4 linked regions of the Homo sapiens genome follow. The protein of the gene in region 2 purifies or fractionates together with the protein of the main gene of each other region. This does not show direct contact. Each region holds a gene or a part of one and is shown on either strand. Other genes may lie near its edges.

The links.
Region 1: the proteins of GPR52 (region 2) and ERMP1 purify together in Homo sapiens (affinity purification with mass spectrometry; 3 studies listed by BioGRID and IntAct, with this or other methods). This does not show direct contact.
Region 3: the proteins of GPR52 (region 2) and LGALS3 purify together in Homo sapiens (affinity purification with mass spectrometry; 3 studies listed by BioGRID and IntAct, with this or other methods). This does not show direct contact.
Region 4: the proteins of GPR52 (region 2) and TLCD4 purify together in Homo sapiens (affinity purification with mass spectrometry; 3 studies listed by BioGRID and IntAct, with this or other methods). This does not show direct contact.

Annotation. Positions count from the first base shown.
Region 1 is NC_000009.12:5,826,618-5,830,117, reverse strand, and holds part of ERMP1 (endoplasmic reticulum metallopeptidase 1), read left to right. Parts: intron 1-3,500. UniProt on the Homo sapiens protein: Within the ovary, required for the organization of somatic cells and oocytes into discrete follicular structures.
Region 2 is NC_000001.11:174,446,668-174,450,045, forward strand, and holds GPR52 (G-protein coupled receptor 52), read left to right. Parts: upstream 1-1,296; 5' UTR 1,297-1,444; coding exon 1,445-2,530; 3' UTR 2,531-2,878; downstream 2,879-3,378.
Region 3 is NC_000014.9:55,135,752-55,139,251, forward strand, and holds part of LGALS3 (galectin-3), read left to right. Parts: intron 1-1,231; exon of another isoform or gene 1,232-1,618; coding exon of another isoform or gene 1,619-1,622; coding exon 1,623-1,640; exon of another isoform or gene 1,641-2,293; coding exon 2,294-2,617; intron 2,618-3,500. UniProt on the Homo sapiens protein: Galactose-specific lectin which binds IgE. May mediate with the alpha-3, beta-1 integrin the stimulation by CSPG4 of endothelial cells migration.
Region 4 is NC_000001.11:95,193,855-95,197,354, forward strand, and holds part of TLCD4 (TLC domain-containing protein 4), read left to right. Parts: 3' UTR 1-3,500.

The sequences.
Region 1 (3,500 bases), on a different chromosome or scaffold from region 2:
ATCTCTTCTAGCAGATTCTGTTGACCTATAAAGTGAGAATTTTGCTCCACTGAGGGTGCCATACTGTTAAAGTACCTAATTAATGTGTAAATCTTTCTCTGAAAATCATTTGGCAAAATAGAATACTTGCATTTAGGACAGTGCCTGATGCAGTATATATTTGTCAAATGAATGGGAATCCCCTAAATTGAACTTCCATTTATTAAAATATTTATTTTTCAGAAAATTGTATTCAGTGGTTAAAGGGATTGTAAATAGGGATGGAAAATAGCATTTACAATGGCATAGCATTTTAGTGGTAGACAAGACCTGAGATGGCATCTGGCTGAACCCCTCATTTGATACAGGAGTACATTTAGCTAGCTGGTCATCGCTGATCAGAGACAAAACTAGGATAAGATGCTGGATTTCCTGGCCAGTCAGTTCTTTCAGCTACATTTGAAAGGAAAAAGAATATTAGGGTGTAATTAATACTCCCTTTTGCAAATTGCTTAACTTCTTAGTTTCTCATCTGTGTAATGGAGAAAATAATAGTACTTTCCTAATAGTGTTGCTTGGAGGATTAAAAATAAGTAAAACGCTAAAATAGTACCTGGCATGGAAAGTGATTTTTAAAAGTTTTTATTAACTCTTATGTAATATTAACACTTCTGGATTACTCGAACTTATAGCAGGCCAAATTTGAACGTCTAGAGTTATACAAAATGTAAGTAAAATTTATTTGCTTGATAAAATGATTCATATTAGAATATCTTCATTTAGAAAGCTTGACAATTGCGTTTAGAATGTAACTTGCATTTTCAAAAATCAGTATACACACGTTTGTTAAATAAGCCAGAAGTACCTTCGTGTGCTGCTGGGGTAACCAGTGGTTTAGTGTTTTTTTTTTTTTTTTTTTGGCTGGGGGGCCAAGTCTCACTCTGTCACCAGGCTGGCATGCAGTGGCACAATCTTGGCTCACTGCATCCTCTGCCTCCCGGGTTTAAGCGATTCTCCTACTGTGCCACCACACTCGGCTGATTTTTTTTGTATTTTTGGCAGCGACAGGGTTTCACCATGTTGGCCAGGCTGGTCTTGAACTCCTGACCTCAAGTGATCCGCCTACCTCAGTCTCCCAAATTTCTGAGATTATAGGTGTGAGCCACTGTGCCCGGCCACCAGTGGTTTTTTTATGTCCATTTCAAAGCAGTAATAAATGTCACTCTTTGCCCACTATTATGATGCTTAAATTCTGGGAAGCGGCAAATAAACACCATGGTTGCTTAAGAACATTATATAAGAAGGCTGTATATACAAGAATTAGCAGCAAATGTAGGGACAAAAGAAAAAAGTTTCCCCTCTACCCTTCATAGTTCTTAGCTGAGTGGACCCCTGTAACAAAAGACAGGTTAAAAAGAGAAAAACCAAATAGAAGTTTATTAACACATGCACTTCATGTACATGGGAGATACTCAAGGAAAATGAGTACATCTCAAAGAGGTGGCTTAGAAATCTGGCTTATGTAGCATCTTCAACCAAACAATACATTTTTAGAGAAGTGACAAAGGAAAAGGACCTTGAGTCTCGAGGGGTGGCAAATTGAAGGAAGGCAAATAAATGGTAGAGAAAGGTTAGTTAGTAAAGTGTTATATAGATTCCTTTTGTGCTGTTGCCAGGCCACCAAAAGTTTAAAGTTGTCTTTCTTGATCAACCTTTGTACTTCCTGGTGGAAAGGGGAAGTGGGGACACCTTGGTAAATGTATACCCTGCTTTTAGGCAAACAAGGGGAGGGCAGAGAGCTTTTTTGTATAGTACCTGCTTCTCAGTTGCCTTCAGCTCAAAATAATCCGTATGTCAAAGTGACATATTTTGGAGTGCATATTCAGTTACTCTTTACAAACATAGTGCCAAATGTTACAGATTGTATATGTGGAGTCTAATAATTAAAGGCCAGCATTTTTGTGAGCCATTAGAACCCACTTTTTATTATTATGTTTTAAATAATAGAGACAGGTTCTCACTTTGTTGCCCAGGCTGGTCTTGAACTCCTTAAGTGATTATTCTACCTCATCCTCCCAAAGTGCTGGGATTACAGGTGGGAACCACTGTGCCTGGCCTAGAACGTACATTCATTCATTCATTCACTTATTCATTTATTTATGAGGCGGAGTCTCACTCTGTCGCCCAGGCTAGAGTGCAGTGGCGCGATCTCGGCTCACTGCAAGCTCTGCCTCCCGGGTTCACGCCATTCTCTTGCCTCAGCCTCCCGAGTAGCTGGGACTATAGGCGCCCACCACCATGCCTTGCGAATTTTTTTTTTTTTTGAGACGGAGTCTCGCTCTCGCCCACGCCAGACTGCAGTGGCGCTATCTCTGCTCACTGCAACCTCCGCCTCCCGGGTTCATGCCATTCTCCTGCCTCAGCCTCGCTATTTTTTTGTTAGTAGAGATGGGGTTTCACTGTGTTAGCCAGGATGGTCTCAATCTCCTGACCTCGTGATCTGCCTGCCTTGGCCTCCCAAAGTGCTGGGATTACAGGTGTGAGCCACTGCGCCTGGCCCTAGAACCTACTTTTAACTAAAATTTTATAGGAATACCCTTAGCAACAATCTCAAGGCAATTTCTGTCAATAATAAATTGTTAAAAATAGTGTTTCACACATTCATCAAATAGATTAAGCTTGTCCAACCTGCAGTCCTGGGTAGCTTTGAATGTGGCCCAATACAAATTCATAAACTTTCTCAAAACGTGAGATTTTTTTTTCAATTTTTATTTTATTTTTTAGCTCATCAGTGATTGTTAGTGTTAGTGTCTTTTATATGTGGCCCAAGACAGTTCTTCTCTTAATGTGGCCCATGGAAGCCAAAAGATTGGACACCCCTGAAATAGACTATCACCTAAATCCTTTTAGTGGATGGCCTAATTGAAGCACTTCTTTTTTCTTTTTTTCTTTTTAAGTTCTCATCTGTGTATCTAGGACTCAGGAATTGATACCAATTAGGAGTAATGTTATCCACAGAAAAGCCTTAATTATCTTCTTGAGTTTGCTGTGTGGTTCCAGGTCGTTGGTAGAAGAGGCATTGAGTTATTTTGGGGGTGGCTTCAATTTCAAGGTTAATTCTAAATGGAAAGGGATGTCAGCTAACCACCTAGCCCTTATAGATACTGTCCTCTTAACTTTCCTTCCCTTTCTTAAAGATATTTGACTCTTCTGTAGTTCTCTTTTAACGCACCAGAACCATTAAAATAAGGGAAGCTGAATGGACAGTTTAACTTTTTAATCAACCCTGTATAGATACCTTTCAATTTCCCTTTCTCTCTTTTTGAATAAAGAAACATTTTATTGTTTGCTCTCTATTTTAAAGTAACTCACAGTGTCAAATTAAAAAGAGAGTTTATTTCATTAGGTTTTTGGAAGGTGACACATTTTGCTAATAGCAGCATTTTCTATTTGATAGTAATTAAATGATTATTACTTTGTTTCACTTCGATTGAAATACAAACCAGTAATCACCACCAAGA
Region 2 (3,378 bases):
AACCTACCTAATGGCCCCTGTGTTAATTGAGCACTTGCTCAAAATAGAGTACAGAAAAATAGAAGAGGCATTTTTTAACATATGGCTGCTACATAACTGCAAATGTAATAAACAAGGTAATTTTCCACTTTCAGAAGATATAGTTGAAGTAATGATTTAATGTGTTAAATCATCTACTGAAAATAGAAAAGGTATAGCAACATAGAACATGAAGCCTATTAGAAATACCTAAGTAATAAATAATGGCAGCATTTCTGGTCAAATAAGCTCGGAGTATATTGGAAAGTTTTATTGTCTAACTTTATATTTACATATATATGTGAGATATGGGTATACAGTTGCAAAGGTGAGAAATAACTGTGAGCTACATATTTTATTATCATGCTCCATTATAAGGAAGGTGGTATATGAAATAACAAATGTTATTTTAAGTTATAGATGCCAAATTAATAGCAAAAATAATTCATTTTGAAAAGGAAGAGGTATAAGTTACGTTGCTGTTAGTACCACCAGTAACTGTAATGGATTAAAACTGCTTTCATCTAAATGCTTTAAAAATGCATGCAGAATTAAAACTTCAGAAGTTTATTACATTTTGCCAGGTGTTAATTCATTAATTCATTGTATATTCTCTTTTCTATTGGAAAATACTTTTTTCTCATGAGAGTTATAGGGCAATCTGGAGTCTGTTTGTTACCTCTATTCTGCCCATGTAGAGATGAATCTTTTCAAATTAACTTTGATAGAGTTGTTTTTCTTAGATTTTAGAAAAATGAGAAATAGGTTATAAATTTGACCCCCCAACATCAATCCCTGAACTAAGCCCAAAGACACTCTTTGCCACAATGAACTTTTTCTTAGCTTTTCAACCAAATTTGAGATCTTAAATTATTTAAAATCTAAAATATGAATGCATTTTTCATCATAGATAAAGCAGGAAGCCTGAGACAGTTTCAGAGTTTTTCTTTTCTCATTCTTTCCAGTTGCTCCCTAAGAAACTGCCTCTCTTAGGAGAACAGCCCACAGAAGCTTTTCTTCCTTTGGCAATTCATTTTTTTTCTTTTTACAGATTTAATTTTTCATAGTGCAAGATAATAAGAAGTCTATTTTCTCTAGAAGTGCCTTATGTCTGCAAAAAGTTCTTTGAGGGCACCAGAGGAAACTAATTAGTGACCTCTTTTCACCTCCTTTCTAGCTTATCCCCTTCTCTCCACCCCTTACCGCCCCCCCCCCACCCCCCCGCCCGAAAGCTGAGGTGTGTCACTGCTGAACTGAGGCTGGTGAAGAGACTTGAGCACTCTCTGGGACTCTCAGCTGTGACAGAAGCACTGACACTGTCTACTGAAGCAGGTTCTGAAACACTCATGTGCGGTGTTTAACAGATGCTGGGCAGGGCATCTGCTTGCTGTAGCCAAGTCTGCAGGTGTCTTTAAATTTCCAAGCCATGAATGAATCCAGGTGGACTGAATGGAGGATCCTGAACATGAGCAGTGGCATTGTGAATGTGTCCGAGCGTCACTCCTGCCCACTTGGATTTGGCCACTACAGTGTGGTGGATGTCTGCATCTTCGAGACAGTGGTTATTGTGTTGCTGACATTTCTGATCATTGCTGGGAATCTAACAGTTATCTTTGTCTTTCATTGTGCTCCACTGTTACATCATTATACTACCAGCTATTTCATTCAGACGATGGCATATGCTGATCTTTTCGTTGGAGTTAGCTGCTTGGTTCCTACTCTGTCACTTCTCCACTACTCCACAGGTGTCCACGAGTCATTGACTTGCCAGGTTTTTGGATATATCATCTCAGTTCTAAAAAGTGTTTCTATGGCATGTCTTGCTTGCATCAGTGTGGATCGTTATCTTGCAATAACCAAGCCTCTTTCCTACAATCAACTGGTCACCCCTTGTCGCTTGAGAATTTGCATTATTTTGATCTGGATCTACTCCTGCCTAATTTTCTTGCCTTCCTTTTTTGGCTGGGGGAAACCTGGTTACCATGGTGACATTTTTGAATGGTGTGCCACGTCTTGGCTCACCAGTGCCTATTTTACTGGCTTTATTGTTTGTTTACTTTATGCTCCTGCTGCCTTTGTTGTCTGCTTCACTTACTTCCACATTTTCAAAATTTGCCGTCAGCACACCAAAGAGATAAATGACCGAAGAGCCCGATTCCCTAGTCATGAGGTAGATTCTTCCAGAGAGACTGGACACAGCCCTGACCGTCGCTACGCCATGGTTTTGTTTAGGATAACCAGTGTATTTTATATGCTGTGGCTCCCCTATATAATTTACTTTCTTCTAGAAAGCTCCCGGGTCTTGGACAATCCAACTCTGTCCTTCTTAACAACCTGGCTTGCAATAAGTAATAGTTTTTGTAACTGTGTAATATACAGCCTCTCCAACAGCGTTTTCCGGCTAGGCCTCCGAAGACTGTCTGAGACAATGTGCACATCCTGTATGTGTGTGAAGGATCAGGAAGCACAAGAACCCAAACCTAGGAAACGGGCTAATTCTTGCTCCATTTGAAGAGAGCTACATAGTAAATCAAATGTAATCTGACAGTGGTTTTGGATCATATTCTAGATTCATCTGGAAATTTGCCATCAGAGAAATATTTACTTGAATAGTTGACTGTAAAATGAAGTATGAGACTAAAGGTTTCTCTCTTTTTTTTTCTTTTTCATGGAAGAAACTAAAGGGAAGGATGTATAGAGGGTTAGCTCATGAAATAATTATAGCATGTGAGTATTAGTGTGCAGTAATAGGAAAAATTAAGCACTGAGATGAAAAAGAATATCTCAAATCTTCTGCAGGACATGAGCAAGCCCCTTGGCTCAGCATTTCTGTCTTTCTGTCTGACTGTACCCTGCCTCTGTCTTTCTCATTTTGTCTATGTTTCTCTCACTCTTTGTGGAAGTTATTACTTACATAAACTGCCCTTTGTAGAAAAGTGCTACATATTATATATGTGGTAAAGTATAATCTTTTGCATCAAAGTGTACCTTTAATCACACTAATCTATAATCCATAAGTGATCTCTTCATGGAGGATGCACAGTAAGCATTGCATTTTATTATTTGCCAAACAACCCCTTTGCTTGTGTTTTTATAATGTTCTCTGCAGCACAGTTTTTCTGCTATAAACAAATAGAAACAGTATTTTTGTTTCTTCTGGGTAAAATGACATTTGCTTTTCCCTGGTTTCCTAACAGTCTCCTGTTTTTTTTCTCTCTTTTTCTTGATCTGCATCCATTGGTACCTTACTTTAGAAGTGTCTTAGCTATTGAAAGAATCTACTGTATAGAGCATCCATGATGTTAAATAATGTATTTCTTCCAGCAAAGCAATCTGGTAGCTTATTAAATATTTTTAATG
Region 3 (3,500 bases), on a different chromosome or scaffold from region 2:
ACAGGGTTTTGCCATATTGCCCAGGCTAGTCTTGAACTCTTGGGCTCAAGCGATTTGCCCACCTTGGCCTCCCAGTGTGCTGGGATTACAGGCATGAGCCACCACACCCAGCCAATATCTTGCATTTGAATCAAGTAGTGGACATTTATTGGATCCCTTGGGGCCGATGCCATTTCTAAAAGTGATTGAGTAAATATCACAGGTGGGCAAATCAAAGAGAAGGATATTCTGGTTGTTTCAAGGTCCAGGTAATTCAGGCCATGGCACAGGTGATCCTGAGCTTAGGAAGAACTCACCCATGCCTCAGGGGCCCAGCTGCCCTCCTCCCCTCACTGCTGGAGCACCTACAACAGCTGTGAAGCATCTTGTGCTTTTGGAGCCTTGACATGGGAAGGAACAGGAGAAAGCAGGACTGATGTCTCCAGACCACCCCTTAGGCAAACCCTCTTTGGTAGCATCTTAGACCCAAATATTTTTTTCCTTCACGTCACGTTGCCTGAATTTTTTCACCTTAGTTTGTTGTACTGCCAAATATTTTATTTGGAATAACAAGTACCTTTGAAAAAAAAAAAGCACATACAAACTTCAGCTCCCCTTTGAGGCTTAGCTCCAACAGCACCTTTCCTTTCCTTCTTAGAAGTAAGCTTTCTGGGTTTGAATTCCTACAGCACACATTCTGACTCATAGCATCTGTGACTTGTTATTTCACATTTCCATGGATGCATCTCATCTGCCTTGCTGCACTGTAGGCCCTTCGGCTTTTATTTTTTTTTAATTCTTAATCTTTATGGGTACATAGCAGGTATATATATTTATGGCATACGTTAGATGTTTTGACACAGGTATGCAATGCCTAATAATCACATCATGGAAAATGGGGTATCCCTCTTCTCATTTATTTGTGTTACAAACAATCCAGTTATACTTTTAGTTATTTTCAAACGTACAATGAAATTATTGACTATAGTCACCCTGCTGTGCTGTCAAATACCCGGCCTTATTCATTCATTATAACTATTTTTGTCACCCATTAACTATCCCCACCTCCCTCCCACCCTCCCTCACTACCTTTCCCAGCCTCTGGTAACCATCCTTCTATTCTATATCTCTGTGGGCTCAATTGTTTTGAGTTTTAGATCCTGTGGCCCCTTTGACCATGCAGATCATGGCCTATTCATCTTCACACCTAGATAGGAGCCTGCGCAGTGCCTGGCCAGGAGCAGGCATAAGTGTGTGCAAATAGAGGAATAAATAGCAGGGCAGCAACTATGTCTGGAGGTCATTGTCTTTCCTGTCTCAGTAGTAATCAATCACTGCTTATCTTCAAAAACCCAGAGTAGGGGATGGGGCAGTTAGTGGGGACAGAGGGCAGATGGGTAAGATTCAGAGCACAGGCTAGTGTGACGGAAGTTTAAACTTGTGAGTTAAATAGGGTTTGGCAATCTAGCTGGATAGCATCCCTGCCCCTTGAAGAGATGTTTTTGTGGCGCCACACTACTGACTTAGGCATAATGCCTAGAGATGGATTAGAACTGCACAATGAACTAGTGGTGAGGTTCAGTTTAATGGAAATTGGTGAAAGCTTTTAGGATAAAATGATAATCTTTGTTTCTTTCAGGAAAATGGCAGACAATTTTTCGGTAAGTGTTTTATGCCTGTTTCTTCCCCTTGATCAGCTCCACATGGTTGAGGGTTGGGGGTTTTGTTTTTACCATGACTTTCCCTTTTCACTCTCCCACTGCGTGGCTTCCCCTGGACTCATTTGTCCAATGAGGGCTTGCAAGCTGGAGCCTTGTTTTTCCAGCAGCAGATTTGGGAAGAAAGCCAGGCAGAGCGAGGCCTGGGACTCACTCACAGTAACCCTTTCACCAAAAGGCCCAGGGCGGAAGGGAGTGGACTCTGCCGGCAGGAGCTGAGAAATCCTCTGAGTAGCGGGAAGTGCGGTACAGTCTGGGCATTCTGATGTTTGTGATTGTTTTTCTCACGGTGATGAAAAAGTATGTGCTATAAGTAGAGGAGCGCTAACTCCTGACTTGAGCTAATTATGAAAATGCAGCCCTCCCTGATCTGAGACGTTGGGAGGCAAGAATAAAGTGAAAAAGTATATGTAATCCCAACATCTAATTTTAGTCTTAGAAACTCAAACTATTAATAAGTGGAAAAAGTTTAATGATATGCATGTAATGCCTTTGCCATATTCCTCTCCTTCTTAGATCACATATTCCTATTTTCCTGAAAATTCTGCTTTTGAGAATGCTTTCTGTCCCGTAATTGTGTATGTCTTTCTTTCCAGCTCCATGATGCGTTATCTGGGTCTGGAAACCCAAACCCTCAAGGATGGCCTGGCGCATGGGGGAACCAGCCTGCTGGGGCAGGGGGCTACCCAGGGGCTTCCTATCCTGGGGCCTACCCCGGGCAGGCACCCCCAGGGGCTTATCCTGGACAGGCACCTCCAGGCGCCTACCCTGGAGCACCTGGAGCTTATCCCGGAGCACCTGCACCTGGAGTCTACCCAGGGCCACCCAGCGGCCCTGGGGCCTACCCATCTTCTGGACAGCCAAGTGCCACCGGAGCCTACCCTGCCACTGGCCCCTATGGCGCCCCTGCTGGGCCACTGGTGAGATGGCATTCCTTCTTTCATGTACTTGACATGCAGAGGGCTTCAGGGAGACCCTGAGCTTTAAAGCTGCTGCTTAGAGCCACTTCTCAAGGGCCAGCCATGGGTGTATGTTGGTAGAGTCAAAAAATTAAGTGTTCATATTGAGCTTATTGTGTGTGGTTAGTATAAACAGAAGGTAATGAGTATTTTGAAGGCACTGATAAAACTGCTTATGAATATAAATCAAGATTGTAGTAATGGAGAACATTTTGGTTATTATTAACACTTACGGAGTACATGTCAATAGTATGCATCTACATGGATAATCTCATTTAACCCCATTACCACGCTATAAGATACTGTTAATAACCCCATTTCACACATGGGGAAATGGGGCAATAGAGAAGTGATATAATTTGTCCAGGGTCATTGAGCAAACATGTAGAGGAACCAGGGTAATCTGGTTTTGAAAAACCTTCTAAAGATAATTTTGTGATCTAAGGGTTGAATTTTCACGCAAATTAAAATATGTCATAGCAAGTGAATTCTAAGTGTAAAACATAACTCCATGGGGGATCCAGATACATCTCAGCCACAGGATCCTTCCTTTCCAGATTTATAATCTAGTTGGATGATAAAACATATAATAAATATGAGGAAAGAGCTAAGTACCAGTATGGGATTAGACCATTTCAGGACTATGCAGAAGACAGCACAAGGTAGCATTGTCTCCTTTTAGGTCAGTTTAGAGTAGAAAGACTTGGGGGAGTGGGTGGCATTGAGAGGGCCTATACCAGAGATGGTTAGTCAGTTGCAGAGAGAGGGAGACATGAAGGCTGTGGAAAGGAACAGGCAGATGTAAGAGAGATTACAGAGGAAGAACCCCCAGAATCTACTGATT
Region 4 (3,500 bases), about 79 Mb from region 2:
AAGCGGTTTTATCTTGTTCTTACCTTTTTGCAGGAAAAGTGGCTTTAAAAAAATTTATATAATAAAACTATTTTGGAAATTCATTCTTTTAGAAAGAGACCTTGAGATAAATATTTTTTGACTCTGGATATTTCTATAGTTCTGAACACAGATTTTAAACCCACTATCAAAATGAAAACAATATAAAGCTATATTAGTGAGTCTCCATGTAGCAGTTTGTTTTTATAGTTACTGTTTCATGCTTAAAACTTCATTCTTACTTTCATTAATGTTACCCTTCACTGGTATAGCCACTCACTAAATAAGTATATTTAAAACATCAAAATTTTGAACTAAAGTTTGTGATTCTCTTATTCAGCAATCCTTATCTTATGCTGGCTGCATGAGTTAATTCAACATCCAGATTAAATATCCTGAAGTAGGTTCTATATATTTCCTCATACAACAGACATGGAATGGAAATGCCACTAGAAACTGCCCTGCTACTTTTAAGTCTGACCTTTGCAGGAGGTACACTTTGCTGTTCTATGATTGTATTCACCTACCTAAAATACAAATGAAGACAGAACATATCATTTACTGCACGATGAATTTTTCATTTATTAAATGAAAAACGTTTGCTAGACATTTTAAATATTAAGTATTTTGACTACACGGATTAATTTAAATGATTCTATCAGGCATTCTGATATTTAACAACTCTATTAAAATATTTATAGAAAAATAAAAGCAAATTGATATAAATTTTTGAGCAATTCTATTTTTGTAGAAAAAAGATAACCTGTAATTATAAAGATGTTTTTTGAATGTGTAGTATCCTAGAAAATAAAAGTTCTTGTGAAACTTAAAAAATGAATGAAAACCAACTAATAGCATGCAAGATCATAGATCCTGCATTAAATTTTTATTTGTGAAAATTTGAAAATTATGAGCTATAACTTATAAAGTTTGCCTTCTTATGTCTAAAATCTTTTAAAGGATTATTTGCATTTATGTAAAACTGGAAATGAAGTTATATATGAGTGCAAAGAAATTGACTTCTGCTCAAATATGTGTTGATACCCTACAGTAAATTGAATTAAATTTTTATCCCAACTGTTTGATTTTATTATTTCATGGACTAGCCTTACGTTAAGTGAAATACTATTTATGTTGTTACCACCCCTAAGAGTGACTCTGATATATTATGGATGACCCAGGACGGTCTTAAAGGTCTAGTTTTAAAAACTGCCTAGTTTGTAAGTATTTGAATCCAGTTCTTTTCTAAATTTTAATAATTTGACTCAAAATTTTTGCTACAGGGTCAACTTTTAAATTGTATATTTCCTCTGAGGCACACTGGGCATTTGGAGAATGGTTCTTCACTGGTGTAGAGAGCCAGGTTTACTGTTGGTTGCACCATCTGTTATCAGGCATGCAGAAACATTTTTCTTCTGGAGAAACAGAGGGGAAGGTGTTGTTACAGTGTACATGTTTCCTCTGTGTCGTTTTTAAGGGAAATAAACATGTTCCAAAAGATGCTGTTAAAATAAATATTTGAACACGTTTTCTGTTTCTAGGTTGCTCTTAATTCCAAACATTTAAATAAATGTGCATTTGAATAGCTTTAGGTGGTTTAGTCTATTAGCTGAAATGGAAAAGTTCATGTATTGACATCATCAATAATACTTCATAAAGGTTTATGTATTTTTATGTGTTTGGATTCCATAAGAAGTTGAACTTAGATAATTTTATCAAGAGTAGCACAGTGTTTCTCAGGTGCGAGCCAGCATACAGCGAGACCCTTCATGTGTCTCTGGATGCACATATATCTTCCCAACCTTAAACACAGCTCATTGAAATACATTAAAGCTACTGAAAGTGAGTTCTGATGCAAAACACATGTGAGGTGTGTAGGAACAATGAAAAGCTAGAGGATCTGGAGTTAGAGGAGGCATTGAGAGTGCTTTTCCCTTAAACGCCGTGATAGTCCTCCCTTGATCTAGAAGTATTCTCTTTGAATCCTTCCATCTCTTCCTCCTGGTACACCAGATGACTTCATCAGCATCTCCCTCTTTTATGCTAACACCTTTCGCTGTCAACTTTTGAGACCTCCCCATGTATCTATAAGCTTCCCAGTCTCTTATGGCAAATTTAAAAGTTTACAAATAGGTTCTCTCATTGAAAAAAAGCATTGTAGTAAAGTTTAAAGTGGAGCTCAGACAAATCATGACTTATTAAGAGACTACAGGAAGCCATTCAGCATTTAATAATAACTGTTTACAACATGAGGCAAAGCTAATAATGTTATGGTTTTATTAAGAGATCTGTCATCTCTGTTTTTCTTAAACTGGTTTAACAGTCAGAGCTTTGTAATGTGTTTCAGCTGAAGATTTATTATAGGCTTGTAAATTATCTAAATGTTCTTTTTAGACCCCATGACAGGAGCACAGAGGAACTGAGATAACTCTGTGTTATGAGAGGGTGGATGCTGGCTTGTGCCAAAATTATTTTAGAGTCCTGCTCTTTAGGGAAAACTTTGCTATGGTAATGTTTCTTTGAAAACAAATTTACCAGCAACTGCGTTACTTGGTGTTTTCCAAAGTACAACATCCAAGGCTTGAACCTTACCCGTTTCTAGGCCAGACTAGGCCAGCCTCTAGTTTTGATAATAATTCATACCTTTATTGGAATATATTTTGGATAGCAGTGAAGAATTGAAAGCAGCTCCTAAAGATTGGTTTGTTTGCTTTGAAAATGTTTACACTTATTCACTCTAAGCAGTGGACCATTTTGATATCAGGCCCTATACATAAGACCAAAACCAGAAATATTTCTAAATCTCAAAGATTTATAAGTACAGTACCTCTGGCTGAAAACTCGTTAAACATCTTTGGATATTTTTTCTTTATATCTTTATGTAATTATTTCTGTAATTAAGTGTACATTAGGGTTATTTGCTACTTAACAAGCCTAAAGGTATAGCTGTATATAGAATGTGCTCTGTGTTTTTCTGTTTCCTGCTTGGTTTGTTTCTGGTATGACTATGTCTACTTTTTATTTAAGGAATTTTGTGTAGATAATACTCTCACTAACTTGTAAATAGGATAAGTTATGAGATTTTTTGGTATTAGAATTTGTAATAATAATGACTTTTAGATTTTATTTGAAAAAGCTACTTGGAAAGCAGTAAATAGAACTATAGTGATATATATAGATACATAGATATATACTTTTTTCTGAGAATGTATAATATATAATTGTCAAAGATTTTTGGAAGTCTTTCAAAATATACTTAATACCATTTTGAGAACATACCTTCTAATTTATTTCCATAAGGCTGAAGAACTTTTATTTACAAAATGTAAGACTAGATAATGTATGAATCAGTGTTACTAGGACTTATCAGTACTTAAAATAGCAACTTGGCATTCTTTATTTTGTTTCCTGGTTGTTTTATTTGGAGGGATAATAAATGTCTAAGTTATTTCCATTAAAATTTTGAAATGTTTGTATACTTT